Linked DNA regions of Homo sapiens: region 1 is linked to region 2. The links come from fine-mapping of genetic effects on gene expression. Tissue or cell type: activated naive CD4 T cells. Region 2 holds a variant in brackets; the other region holds the start of a gene. All regions are shown on one strand. Distances are between the middles of the regions.

The links. PIP is the estimated chance that this variant, and not a neighbour inherited with it, causes the effect.
Region 1: SGF29 starts here. The variant in region 2 is fine-mapped to the expression of SGF29 in activated naive CD4 T cells (Schmiedel 2018, PIP 0.95).

What each region holds. Positions count from the first base shown.
Region 1 is chr16:28,550,402-28,557,790 of GRCh38, reverse strand. It overlaps SGF29 (SAGA complex associated factor 29), which reads right to left and starts at 3,871. Exons shown (of 10, transcript NM_138414.3): 1 at 3,694-3,871. RefSeq lists a silencer at 3,443-3,562 and an enhancer at 3,583-3,902.
Region 2 is chr16:29,363,122-29,370,510 of GRCh38, reverse strand. It overlaps the pseudogene SNX29P2. Among named protein-coding and RNA genes, the nearest start is that of NPIPB11, 40 kb to the left of the region's middle. The variant A/G (reference allele first, on the strand shown) is at 3,522.

The sequences.
Region 1 (7,389 bases), 810 kb after region 2:
GTGTGGAGATTTCTCCCCAACACCAATCAATCCATTGAGTCTGCAGTGGATACACGCTGGATGTCCTCTAATTCAGTTTATTTCCAACACTATCCACCCAGACAGAGTGTCAAACCCCACAGGTTGAGGGCTCAGTCCCACGAGCATGTCCCCCCAATTCTCAATGCCAGTCACAAGCCCCCAGTTGCTTTATTTGTGCTTCTGACCAACTGACTATAAATCAGGGTTTCCATGACTCCCTCCTTGGGTTCCATTAATTTGCAGGAGCAGCTCTCAGCACTCAGGGAAACACTTAGGTTTACTGGCTTATTATAAAGGATGTCACAATGGATACAGATGAAGGAAGAGGTGCACAGGGCAAAGCATGTGGGAAGGAGCGAAGAGCTTCCATACCCACCCTGGGCACGCCACCCTCCAGGAAGCTCCAAACTGGGATACAAACCAGATATATATTTTACAATATCACAGAGTCAACAAACACCCCTTTCAGCTTAGGCTAGTCAGAGTAGCTTTTTGTTATCTGCAACTGAGTAGCTTGACTAATAAGAACTTTCATTAAGCACGGTCTGAAGAGATAGCCAATTCTGAGGGACAAAGGCTGCAGGGTAGAAGCATATGTTAACCACTAATACCCAGCCTAAAATTGCTGGCCCTTTTACTATAATAGCATAAAAGGCCTCAAATAAACAAATCCAAATATCCTACACTTAAGCCACTCTAAGATTAATCCCACAGGGCTTAAAACAGTAAGAGCTTTGTTCTGGGTCAAAGGGAAAGAGGAACCTAATACCCCACACTCACATCCCACACTCTCAACCCAGTCACTAGCAATGAGAATCTGCAAACTGGGTGCAGTGGCTCATGACCGTAATCCCAGCATTTTGGGAGGCCGAAATGGGAGGATCACTTGAAGTCAGGAGTTCAGGACCATCCTGGGCAACACACGGAGGCCCTGTCTCTACAAAAACAAAATAAAATAATTAGCTGGGCAGGGTGGTGCACATGTGTAGTCCTAGCTACTCAGGAGGCTATGGCAGGAGGATCACTTGAGCCCAGGAATTTGGGAATAATGAGCTATAATGGCACCACTAGGCTCCAGCCTGGGTGACAGAGTAAGACCTTGTTTCTAAAAAAAACATAAGTAGGTTGGGCGCAATGGCTCACACCTGTAATCCCAGCACTTTGGGAGGCCAAGGCCGGCAGATCAACTAAGATCAGGAGTTCAAGACCAGCCTGGCCAACATGGTGAAACCCTGTCTCTACTAAAAATACAAAATTAATCGGGTGTGGTGGCACATGCCTGTAATCACAGCTACTTGGAAGGCTGAGGCAGGAGAATCGCTTGAAACCGGAAGGCGGAGGTTGCAGTGAGCCATGATTGCGCCATTGCAATCCAGCCTGGGCAACAAAGAGTGAAACTCCGTCTCAAAACAAACAAACAAACAAACAAAAAATTAGCCAGGCATGGTGGTGCATGCTTGTAATCCCAGCTACTCAGGAGGCTGAGGCAGGAGAATCACTTGAACCCGGGAGGCAGAGGTTGCAGTGAGTTGACATTGCACCACTATACTCCGGCCTGGGTGACAGAGCGAGACTCCATCTCAAAAATAAATAAATAAATAAATAGAATCTATATTCATCAATTGGTTAAAGAGACATTAAGAAGACAATTTTTTTCCTTCATGCCTCTGTATTGCAACTTATGCCAGTGTTTCTCATTTAAACCTTACAGCAATCCTATAAAATAGATAACAGAATAGTAAGTATAGTGAAGAAACTGAAATTCAGATAGGTTATGCTAGGTAACTCAGGAAAAATAGGTAGTTGAGCTGGGGCTGCAAGGCTGCAAGTTCTAAAACCTATGCTCTTCCTCTGAATTCCAAGTTGTGTCACGACTTCAGCATATTCAATAGTAAAAGAGATCACAAAAGTGGAAGCTGCCAACCCACCATTAGGCTATTATGACAACACTCAAAGTATCACCAGTAAAATGATGATTGAGGCAACTGAAAAACAAAGCTAGGGAAATGTGATGGTTAACTTTATGTGTCAAACTGATTGGGCTAGGGGATTCCCAGATAGCTGGTGAAACACTTTAGAGTGTGTCTGTGAGTTTCCTGAGGGTTTGCTTTCCTGGGCTTCCAGCTTGCAGATGGCAAATCTCGGGACTTCTCAGCCTCTATAATAGTGTCACCCAATCCATCACAATAAATCTCTTTTAAAATAGCTATACAGTTGACCCTCAAACAATGCAGGTTTTAATTGTGCAGGTCCACTTATATGTGGATTTTCTTCCACCTCTAGAACTCTTTTTTGAGACAGGGTCTTGCTCTGTCACCCAGGCTAGAGTGCAGTGGCACGATCTTGGCTCACTGCAGCATCCACCTCCTGGGTTTAAGTGATTATTGTGCCTCAGCCTCCCAAGTAGCTGGGATTACAGGCGTGCACCACCACGCCCGGCTAATTTTTTAATTTTTTTTTTTTTTTTTAGAAGAGACTGGATTTCACCACGTTGCTCGGGCTGGTCTCAAACCCCTGAGCTCAGGCAGTCTGCCCACCTCGGCCTCCCAAAGTGCTAGGATTACACGCATGAGCCACCGCGCCTGGCCAGTATTTACATTTAAAATGTGAAACTGGGATTGCGGTGGCTCATGCCTGTAATTCCAGCATTTGGGGAGGCTTTGGTTAGGAGGACTGCTTAAGCCCAAGAGTTTGAGGCTGCAGTGAGCTGTAATAACACCACTGTTCTCCAGTCTGAGCAACAGAGAACGTGTCTCTAATAAAAACAAAAATGTGAGATGATGCCTAGGTTAGAATCAGCAGAGGAGAAGCCAGAGAGAGCAGAGGCAAAGGAAGAGAACGTTCAGCAAGCCAAATGAAAACAGTGTTTCAAGGAGGGGCAGTGATCCACAGCATCAAATGCTGAACAGGACTGAGACCTAACTTAACAATGCATTTGGCCACCTAGAGATCACTGGTGGCTTTGACAAGAAGCCTTTTTAGTGGAGTGGTGGAGACCAAAGCCTGACTAGAGGCTCAAGGGTTCAAGACTTGGAGGAGAAAAGGCATTAGTGAGGGTAGACTAAGGCCTTTGGCTGCAAACCGGAGCCGAGGAGGAGGTAACTGGAGGATAGCGAGGGTGAAGGAGGCTGTTTTGTTGTTCTTAAGACGGGCATTTTTTGGCCGGGCGCGGGGGCTCACGCCTATACTCCCCACACTTTGGGAGGCCGAGGCGGGAGGTTGAGCCTCCTGGGCAAACGACGAGCTGTTAGTGTATCTTGTTAAGAACTATATATATATACAAAATTTTTGTGCAAATCATAAAATAAGTGCTGGAGTTCGGGGCCCATCCTCTGTCCGCATCTTCGTGACCCGGGTCCGAGTACCCCACCTGGAAGCTGCGTCCGTGCCGAGCCCAGCGTGTCGCTGTTTCCCACCCTCGCCGGGGATGGAAGCACGCAAGCGCAGACCTCGAGCGGCCGGGCGCAGGGCCCGCCCTCCCCGAGCCCCGGCCCCGCCCTCCTCTCCCGCCCCCACCCCCACGAGCCCCGCCCCCCTCCCGCCCAGAGCGCGTGCGCACCGCCCCTAGAGCGCCGCCTCAGGGAGGTCGGGAGCCGCGGCGCGGAGGGAGGACTCAGCCCTTCGCTCCCGCGTTTCGCCGGAGGTCTCAGGCCACGGCCCGTCGCCACCTACCGAGTCCGGGACAAAACAAGCTCGTCGGGCTGGAAACTGCGACGAGGGGAGCAGGCGCGTTCCTCGAACCCTTTTTCGGAGTCTGCGGATGATCACAGACCTGCGTTCGAAGATTGGCGGCACGTCGAGAACCGCACACGCTTTTTTTTCCTTTTATGAGCGTAGTCGCGCGCGGAGGACCTTGCACGCATGCGTAGTCGTTCCTCTGTGACGTGACCCGCTGCCCCGTGGGAAATGTAGTTTTCACTTGGCACACCGCTCCGGCTCTTGGCGGAACCCTAATTTAACCAACCAAAGTGCTTGTGCGTTTTCAGCGTTTTCTCCCATTTCCCCAGACTCTATTTAAAACAAAATGCAATAAATAAATAAATAAATAAAACTTGAAAGCGAACAGATTGCTGCTTGCTGGAGGTGGGTGGGCGCAGGGGTAATATGAAAACTGTACTTTCTGCTCAATTTTGTTGTGAACCTAAAAATGCCCTAAAAAATAAAAGTCTGTTGTTAAAAAATTAATTAAAAACAGGCCGGGCGCGGTGGCTCACGCCTGTAATCCCAACACTGGGACGCTAAGGCGGGCGGATCACCTGAGTTCAGGAGTTTGAAACCAACCCGGCCAACATGGTGAAACCCCGTCTCTACTAAAAAATACAAAAATCAGCCGGGCGTGGTGGCGGGTGCCTGTAATCCCAGGTACTGGGGAGGCTGAGGCTGGAGAATCGCTTGAATTCAGGAGGCGGAGGTTGTAGTGACTGGAGATTGTACCATTGCACTCCAGCCTGGGTGACAAGAGGGAAACTCCATCTCAAAAAAACAAACAAACAAAAAACAAGCAGATCTTTAGACCCAGAAATCGCACTTCTAGGGAATCTTCTCAGGAAAGTACTAAGGATATGGACGTGCAATGGACATGTAGCCTCAATGGTATTTTATCGAAAGCCATCCTGGTATCTTAAAGTTTCTTACATAACCTACAAATGTCTGTAATTATTTGTTGATTATTTGATAAACTTGCAAGTCCTATGAGATTGGGATCATCTTGTGTTCACCTGTGTATTCCTAGTACCTAGCACAGTGCCTGGCCATCACATGTTTCTTTTTTTTTCTCTTTGAGACAGGGTCTCGCTCTGTTGTCCAGGTTGGAGTGCAGTGGTGCCATCAGGGCTCCTGAGTAGCTAGGACTACAAGCACACACCAGCACATTCTGCTGATTTTTAAATTTTTTTTGGTAGAGATGGGGGTCTTGCTATGTTGCATAGGCTGGTCTTGAGTTCCTGGGCTCAAGCGATCCTCCTGCCTCAGCCTCCCAAAGTGCTGGGATTACAGGCATGAGCCACCAACCTCAGCCCCGTCAGTATTTTTCTGTTTATTAGAGAATCTCAGGCGTTAGCACTGAAACTATGTTAACCCCAAAATTAATGCATCATTTTCTTCCATCACACTTGCAGTTCTTTCTGTGGGCGTCAGGTCAGTGAATGACATGCCCATCCACCCAGCTGCAGTTCTACTTACTGCCTTTTATGAAGGTTATGCTTTGAGGGATTTTGCAAATTTTGCATTTGTAAAGGTCTCAGGGGCTCTTTTTCCTGATTGTTAAATATCAGCCCTAGCTAGGCCAGGCGTGGTGACTCACGCCTGTAATCCCAGCACTTTGGGAGGCCGAGGTGGGCAGATCACGAGGTCAGGAGTTTGAGACCAGCCTAGCCAATATGATGAAACCATGTCTCTACTAAAAATACAAAAATTAGCTGGGCATGGTGGCACGCACCTGTAGTCCCAGCTACTCTGGAGGCTGAAGCAGGAAAGAACCACTTGAACCCAGGAGGCGGAGGTTGCAGTGAGCCAAGATTGCGCCACTGCACTCCAGTCTGGGCAACAGAGCAAGACTCTGTCTCAAAAAATAAATAAATAAAATAAATTTAAAAAATCAACCCTAGTCACTGATCAGGAGAGATGTAGAGCTTACAGTTGTTTTTTAAATTATTTTGGTCTCTGCCCTGTTTTAAAATTTTATCGTTAATTTCTGATTTTTCTACAATAAACATGTATTTATTAACTTTTTAAAAAGTGTTTTAGAGTGTTGTCCACATGTAAGGAATTGCTCTGTCTTCTCCACATCCACATTTCTCAAAAGAATCATCTATACTCAGTTTTCATGTCCCACCTCCTACTTAGTACAATGTCCTGAGCCAGCACCTGGGGGTTATCCCTGACATCACCCTTTCCCTCCCCTCCCTCATTCAATCCACCACGTGTCTGCAATATAAAAACACATTTGTTAGGCACTTGCTATGCACCGGGCACTGTTCAAAATCCTTTACACATATTCATTCATATAACACAATCCACCTACTTTTCACCTCCACCACATCCACCCTAGGCCAAAGTAGGGACATCTTCCCTAAACAACTGCAAAGGTTCTCTGTTTTTTAATCGCTGGTGCTAAGGTTGAGTTACTTATTTCTACTTAATGACACACTTCGTCATTGGGCTCTGCACGGCCTCTCTATTTATTTGTTATTTTAAAAATTTTTTTGAGACAGAGTCTCACTCTGTCACTCAGGCTGGAGTGCAGACGCGCGCCACGACGCCCAGCTAATTTTTTATATTTTTAGTAGAGATGGGGTTTCACCATGTTGGCCAGGCTGGTCTCAAACTCCTGACCTCAGGTGATCCACTAACCTCAGCCTCCCAAATTTCCTGGGATTACAGGCGTGAGCCAGCGCGCCAGGCCTCAGCCCTCTGCTTTCAACACCTGTCATTGTGGGCACACTTTACCTATGACTTACAGCAACCATGCAATATTTCGAAGTGGGCAGCAACATTTCAGTTATGATGGACCTGTAAGTTGCCTCCAACTACTACTGGCTACCACAAACAATGCCACAGTGAACAACCTCATGCTTATTCCCCTGCGGTCTATATGAAGATTTCTCTGAGATGTATGCCCACTAGTGAGACTGAGCAATGCCATCTTAAATGATCTCCCCTCATCTATTCGGGCCAGAGTGGCACATGCCTACAATCCCACTGCTTTGGGAGGCTGAGGCTAGAGGATCACTTGAGGCCAAGAGTTCAAGGCAACAGTGAGCTATGATTGTGCCACTGCACTCTAGCCTGGAAAACATAGCAAGATCCTGTCTCTACAAAAAAAATCTTTTTAATTAGCCAGGCGTGGTGGCATGCACCTGTAGTCCCAGCTACTACTGAAATTGAGGCAGGAGGACCGCTTGAGCCCAGGAATTCAAGACCAGCCTGGGTAACAGAGTGAGATCTCATCTCTACAAAAAATTTAAAAATTAGCCGGGCGCGGTGGCTCACACCTGTAATCCCAGCACTTTGGGAGGCCGAGGTGGGTGGATCACAAGGTCAGGAGATCAAGACCATCCTGGCTAACACGGTGAAACCCTGTCTGTACTAAAAATACAAAAAGTTAGCCAGGCGTGGTGGCGGGCGCCTGTAGTCCCAGCTACTTGGGAGGCTGAGACAGGAGAATGGCATGAACCCAGGAGGTGGAGCTTGCAGTGAGCCGAGATCGTGCCACTGCACTCCAGCCTGGGTGACAGAGCGAGACTCTGTCTCAAAAAAAAAAAAAAAAATTTAAAAATCAGTCCAGGCGGGGTGGCTCACACCTGTAATCCCAGCACTTTGGGAGGCCAAGGCGGGCGGATCACGAGGTCAGGAGATCGAGACCATCCT
Region 2 (7,389 bases):
GGCAGATCACGAGGTCAAGAAATCGAGACCATCCTGGCCAACATTGTGAAACCCTGTCTCTACTAAAAATACAAAAATTGGCTGGCCCTGTTGGTGCACGCCTGTAGTCCAACTACTCGGGAGGCTGAGGCAGGAGAATCGCTTGAGCCCGGGAGGCAGAGATTGCAGTGAGCCAAGATTGCACCACTGCACTCCAGCCTGGGCGACAGTGCGAGACTCTGTCTCGAAAAAAAAAGAATTTTTTTTTTTTTTTGTAGAGGCAGGGTTTTGCTATGTTGCCCAGGTTGGTCTTGAACCCCTGGGCTCAAGCGATCTGTCCACCTCAGCCTCCCAAAGTGCTGGAACTACAGGCATGAGCCACTGTGCCTGGTTGACTTTTCCTTTCCAAATGAACAAGTTTGGGTTGAGTTTTCAGTCACTGAGACCAAACTGGTCCCAATGAGTACACCAGTAATCTTAGCCTCAGAGGTGTGCATCTACTCACAGAAGGGCTCAGTGGCTTCCAGTGTTCAAGGTTACTGGATTGCACAGGAGCTGTTATAGGACAAGCCCCGTGGATACTGGTGGCTCAGAGGTCTTACAGATGAGGTTTCACTGGGAACCAATCAGAACTCCCTTATTTGCAAGTAACAGACACCAAACTCGAATGGACTTGTGAGAATATGTTGGCTCATGTAATTGAAAAAGCCACTTGGGGCTGGGCGCAGTGGTTCACACCTGTAATCCCAGCACTTTGGGAGGCCAAGGTGGGGCAGATCACGTGAGGTCAGGAGTGCAAGACCAGCCTGGCCAACATGGTGAAACCCTGTCTTTACTAAAAATACAAAAATTAGTCGGGTGTGTTGGTGCGCGCCTGTAATCCCAGCTACACGGGAGGCTGAGGCAGTAGAATCACTTGAACCCGGGAGGCAGAGGTTGTAGTGAGCTGAGATCGTGCCATTGCACTCCAGCCTGGGTGACAGAGTGTGCTCCGTTTCTAAAAAGAAAGAAAAGAAAAGAAAAGAAAAAGCCATTTGGATTTCAGACACAGATCCTAGTACTCATATAATGCAATCAGAATCCATCTCTCCTCATCTCCTGGCCCTGCTTCATTTACTCTGTGCCGGCTTCATGCCTGGCCAGAATCTCCCTAAGCGGTGGCAAAGGCAGCCACCAGCAAGTCCAGGCTTACATCCCACATGCTTAGCAACTGCAGTGAAAAGAGAACACATTTTCCCCTAATAGGTACACAAAGCCAGGAGCAGCCTAGCTTGGGCTAGGGGCACACAGCTGCTGCTCCGGGATGGAATGTGCTGATTGGCTAGACCTGGGTCATGTGGCCACCCCACAGAGCGAAGGGGTGGGGTCGGCCTCCGCTGAAGGAAGGACTGGTTCAAAGGAAGCTTGGGGTGCTATCACACAAAGCAGAACGAGTGGATGCTGAACAGGCAAAAATAGCAGACGTCCGCTACATCTCATTACTCTTAGCATCTTGTGGTCCTTATTACAATTGTAATGAACTATCACTCCAAATCCTCTACCTTCTACAATCACCTCCCATTTTCCTTTTTTTAAAAAAAGTATCATTATTATTTTTTGTCTCTGTCAAAAAAAAATAATTATTATTATTATATTGTCGCCCAGGCTGGAGTGCAGTGGTGCGATCTTGGCTCACTACAACCTCCGCCTCCCGGGTTCAAGTGATTTTCCTGTCTCAGCCTCCTGAGTAGCTGGGATTACAGGCAGCCACCATTGTGCCCGGCTAATGTTTGTAGTTTTAGTACATGTTAGCCAGGCTGGTCTCAAACCCCTGACCTCAAGTGATCCACCCAGCTCGGCCTCCCAAAGTGCTGGGATGACAGGAATGAGCCAACGTGTTCAGCTAATTTTTGTATTTTTAGCAGAGATGGGGTTTTGACATGTTGGCCAGGCTGGTCTTGAATTCCTGACCTCAGGTGATCCGCCCCCCTGGGCCTCCCAAAGTGCTAGGATTATAGGTGTGAGCCACGGTGCCCGGCCCCATTTTCCTTTACCATCAACATTGAATGACTTTAGCCCACATACTAAGAAAAACCAAGGCCTGGCGTGGTGGCTCATGCCTGTAATCCCAGCACTCTACAAGGCTGTAGTGGGAGGATGGCTTGAGGCCAGGAGTTTGAGACTAGTCTGGGCAACATAGCAAGACCCTGTCCCTACAAAATAGAAATGAAGACATTAGCCAGGCCTGGTGGTGTGTGCCTATAGTCCCAGCTGTCTCAAAGGCTGAGGCAGGAGTGTCAGAGGCATTTGAACCTGAGCGACTCTATCTTGAATAGGGGCTGGGTAAAATAAGGCTAAGACCTGCTTGGCTGCATTCCCAGGAGGTTAAGGCATTCTAAGTCACAGGATGAGACAGGAGGTTGGCACAAGATACAGGTCATAAAGACCTTGCTGATAGACCAGTTTGTAGGCCAGGCACAGTGGCTCACCCCTGTAATCCAAGCACTTTGGGAGGCTGAGGCGGGCAGATCACCTGAGGTCAGGAGTTTGAGACCAGCCTGACAAACATGGAGAAACCCGTCTCTACTACAAAAATACAAAATTAGCCGGGCATGGTGGCACATGCCTGTAATTCCAGCTACTCAAGAGGCTGAGGCAGGAGAATCGCTTGAACCCAAGAGGTGGAGGTTGCGGTGAGCTGAGATTGTGCCATTGCACTCCAACCTGGGCAACAAGAGTGAAACTCTGTCTCAAAGAAAAAAAGAAAAGGGCCGGGTGCGGTAGTTCATGCCTGTAATCCCAGCACTTTGAGAGGCCGAGGCAGGTGGATCACGAGGTCAGGAGTTCAAGACCAGCCTGGCCAATATGGTGAAACCCCGTCTCTACTAAAAATACAAAAATTAGCTGGGTGTGGTGACGTGCACCTGTAGTCCCAGCTACTCGGGAGGCTGAGGCAGAAGAATTGCTTGAACGTAGGAGTCGGAGGTTGCAGTGAGCCAAGATCATGCCACTGCACTCCAGCCTGGATGACAGAGTGAGACTCCATCTCAAAAAATAATAATAAAAATAAAAAATAAATAAATAAATTAATTAATAATAACAATAAAAAATGTTCAAAAAGGAAAACCAGGCCCCCTCCACAATGTCTCTGAGGCATCCCAAGATGGGGCTCCCCATCTCCTGAGTCCACCATGCTCAGCCCACTTCCTGGCTGTCCTTCTCTGCTCTTGGCCTCTGGAGCCATTGCCCCCTTTCTTCGCCTCCAAATCAAAACCTCTGTTTTTGTCCATTGCACCAAATCTCCACTAACCCAAGGCTGGGTGAGGAACAGTCTCCTCCCCTCAGCTGCCAGTAATTACCTCTAAATTACTTTTCTTACACCCACATTTCCACCCTAAACCAGACACTAGATGGGTGTATAGATGTTGACATTTCAGAGAGAGATGCTGTTTGGTGACTCTCCCATGGTGACGTGACCGTAAGTTGAGTAGTCATCTATGGCTCTGTGTGAAGGGTGTCATGGGGTCTGCGATCACTCCTTCCACTAGCCCTTGCTTTGGCCC[A/G]CTTAGCTGTGACTGCTGAGGAGTTGGGAAAATTTGCATAGGCCTCAAGGAGTGTCTTGGGAAAAAAGGAATCAAGGCTACAACTCTCTTTCCTTCTGAAGTTTAATTTATTTTATTATTTTATTTTATTTATTTTAATTTTTTGAGATGGAGCTTTGCTCTATCACCCAGGCTGGAATGCAATGGTGTGATCTCGGCTCACTGCAACCTCCACCTCCTGGGTTCAAGTGATTCTCCTGCTTCAGCCTCCCCAGTAGCTGGGATTACAGGTGCCTGCCACTATGCCTGACTAATTTTGTAGTTTTAGTAGAGATGGGGTTTCACCATGTTGGCCAGGCTGGTCTCAAACTCCTGACCTCAAGTGATCTACCCCCCTCAGCTTCCTGAAGTGCTGGGATTACGGGTGTGAGCCACTGCACCCGGACTTGAAGTTTAATGTTTTTTTTATTTTTTATTTTTGAGACGGAGTTTCACTCTTGTTGCCCAGGCTGGAGTGCAATGGTGCGATCCATAAGATTTAGGTCAAATAGAGAGATACATTTCTGTATATTCATTTTACACTTTTTATTTTTTTGTAGAGACGGAGTTCTTGCTATGTTGCCCAGGCTGGTATCAAACTCCTGGCCTTAAGCAATCCTCCCAACTCAGCCTCCCAAAGTGCTGGGATTACAGGCATGAACCACTGCACCTGGCCTCATTTTACACTTTAATGGACTGGATTTTGCAGTAGTCATGATTAGGAGGGCACTGTGCACCACAAAGCCTAAGAGGTAACTAGCTTATTTGGGGTATTTTGGGAATTTTTTTTTTTTTTTTTTTGAGAAGGACCTTCTCTCTTGTTGCCCAGGCTGGAGTGCAATGGTGTCATCTTGGCTCTGCCTCCCATATTCAAGCGATTCTCCTGCCTCAGCATCCCAAGTATCTGGAGTTACAGGCATGCACCACCATGCCTGGCTAATTTTGTATTTTTTTAGTAGAGAAGGGGTTTCACCATATTGGTCAGGCTGGTCTCAAACTCCTGACCTCAGATGACCCACCCAACTTGGTGTCCCAAAGTGCTGGGATTACAGGTGTGAGCCACTGCGCCTGGCCAACTCCACTGTTAAGGCAGCAGGTGCAGTGGATATTACAGCTATTCACACCCCTGCAGATAAACACAGAAGTCACCATACCACAACTATTCTCCTAACGCTGCCTTCGTCCTGAGCTTCCTGTGCTAGTGGCAAGTCAGATGCAAGGAAAATCCAGAGTAAAAATAAAAAACAATAACAGGCACAGTCTCATCAGACTGTGAAACCCTGTGAACCCTGTGAAATGAAAATTACAGATGTATGTATAAAGCAAGAATTTCAAGGCACACATTCTGACATTAACTTTGTATTAAGTGCCCTCAAATGTACTCTCTTCCCCTCTTTCAGTTCTCAAGGGAAGAGCAAATAACACTCCTTCCAAATAACACTCCTAAATCAACACCTGAAGAATGAATGATACCCTGGGCAAATATAAAACTTGCAGACCTATTTCACCCAATACCATAGAAAGAGAAAACGGTGAACTTAACCCCCTCATTAAAAGCACAAGGGGAGGCTGGGCTTGGTGGCTCATGCCTGTAAACCTAGCACTTTGGGAGGCCAAGGCAGGCGGATCACTTGAGGTCAGGAGTTTGAGACCAGCCTGGCCAATATGGTGAAACCCCATCTCTACTAAAAATACAAAAATTAGCTGGGTGTGGTGTCAGGTGCCTGCAATCCCAGCTACTCGGGAGGCTGAGGCAGGAGAATCGCTTGAACCCGGGAGGTGGAGGTTGCAGTGAGCTGAGATCACGCCACGGCACTCCAGCCTGGGGGACGGTGAGACTCCATCTTACATACAAACACACACACACACACACACACACACACACACACACAGAAGCGTGAGGGGAACTTACTTCTCGGGCGACTCTGAGTGGCCCCTGTGCTTCCGTCCTGATGAGTTTCCATACACGTCATCTTCGTTTTCATCCACATCTTCATCATCGATGCTTTTCACATCAAGCTTCTGGTACCCAAACTCCCTGTTCAAAGACAGGGAATCAATTTTCCACGAGTTGCTGCTCTGACTTCCATTGGAGTTTGGCCCGAAGGGGCTTTCAAAGGCGGACATGATATTGACAGAGGAGTGGTCGGAGTTGTCCTCTGAGCTCTCCCCTGCCCCAGGTGTCTTTTTAAACATGTCCCCAGAGTTCTGCTCATCTTCCTCATCATCAAATGAGATAATGTTGGTCACTTGCTTTTTCTTCTTCCGCTCCTTTTTGCATTTGGCATCTGGCAAAAAAAAAAAAAAGAAAAAAAAGAAAAGATACAGTATAAGAAAAAGTAGGCAAGACAAAAGGATGATGAAACCAACTCACTTCCAGGTTGTGGAAAATACTATTCTAGTGAGAAATACACTGTAACATGAATTCAGACTTTTTAAAATCCTCAGTGAAAATCTGTGTACAGAAGATTGAGCAGAATGGATGCAGGCCTCTCCCACTGATTTAAATAAACACACCACAGAGCACACCTTGAAACTGTTCCTTCCAAGCAGTCACTTTGATGTGAAGGATGCTACCATTACCAAAATGATCTTCAATGCTTCACTTTGGAAAATATTCTCATAGCTGGTAGATGAGACCAGGAGAACCAGCTGGGGGGTGTAGTCAAGTGTTGAGCAGCCTCAAATTCCTGCCATTCCTGTGCAATGCCCCTTTGCAATGGGTCTTTGTGGCTCCTCCCAGCCAGAGGTGATGTCTATTTCTGCACCCTCTTGAATCTGGCTGGCGTAGTGCTCTGCCTTTTTTTTTTTTTTTTTTTTTTAAGAGTTGGGGCATCTCGCTCTATTGCCCAGGCTGGAGTATATTGGTGCAATCATAGCTCACTGTAACCTCAAATTCCTGGGATCAAACAATCCTCTGCCCTCAGCCTCCCGAGTAGCTGGGACTACAGGTGCATGCCACAACACCCAGCTAATTTTATTATTATTTGTAGAGATGAGGTCTTGCTGTGCTTCCCAAGCTAGTCTCAAAACTCCTGGCCTCAAGCAATACTCCCACCTCAGCCTCCTAAATTGCTGGGATTATAGGCATGAGCCACCATGCCCTGCTTTTACCAAAAGAATGTGGCAGAAAGGGCCGGGTGCGGTGGCTCATGCCTATAATCCCAGCACTTTGGGAGGTCAAGGCGGGTGGATCACCTGAGGTCAGGAGTTCAAGACCAGCCTGGCAAACACGGTGAAACCCCGTCTCTATTAAAAATACAAAAAAAAAAAAAAATTAGTTGGGCGTGGTGGCAGGTGCCTGTAATCCCAGCTACTTGGGAGGCTGAGGCAGGAGAATTTCTTGAACATGGGAGGCAGAGGTTGCAGTGAGCTGAGACTGCGCCATTGCACTCCAGTCTGGGTGACAGAGCGAGACTCTGTCTCAAAAAAAAAAAAAAAAAAAAAAAAGTGGCAGAAATAACACTGTGTGAGTTCTAGTAGCTAGGCGTTAAAAGGTCTCAGCTTTGCCTTTGCTCTCCTGGACAGTGGCCCTGACCCCATACATAAAGAAGCCAGTTCAGCCGACTGGAGGATGAGAGTCCATGAGTAGAATCTGAGCAGCCCCAGCACTGATTCCAGACATGTGGATGGGGCCATCTTAGATCTTCCAATCTAACCACGAGCTCCCATGAGTGAGCCGAAGGAGCCCAGCAGCAGAGCCACCATGCCAACCTACACAAAAAAGTAACGAACTGCGGTGGTTTTAAGCCACTACATTTTTAAATCACTTGTTATATAGCAAATGCTAACTGAAAAAGAAATCAAGCTTGCCTTAGTGACCAGCTCTCACAGAAGACACTTTGTGCCC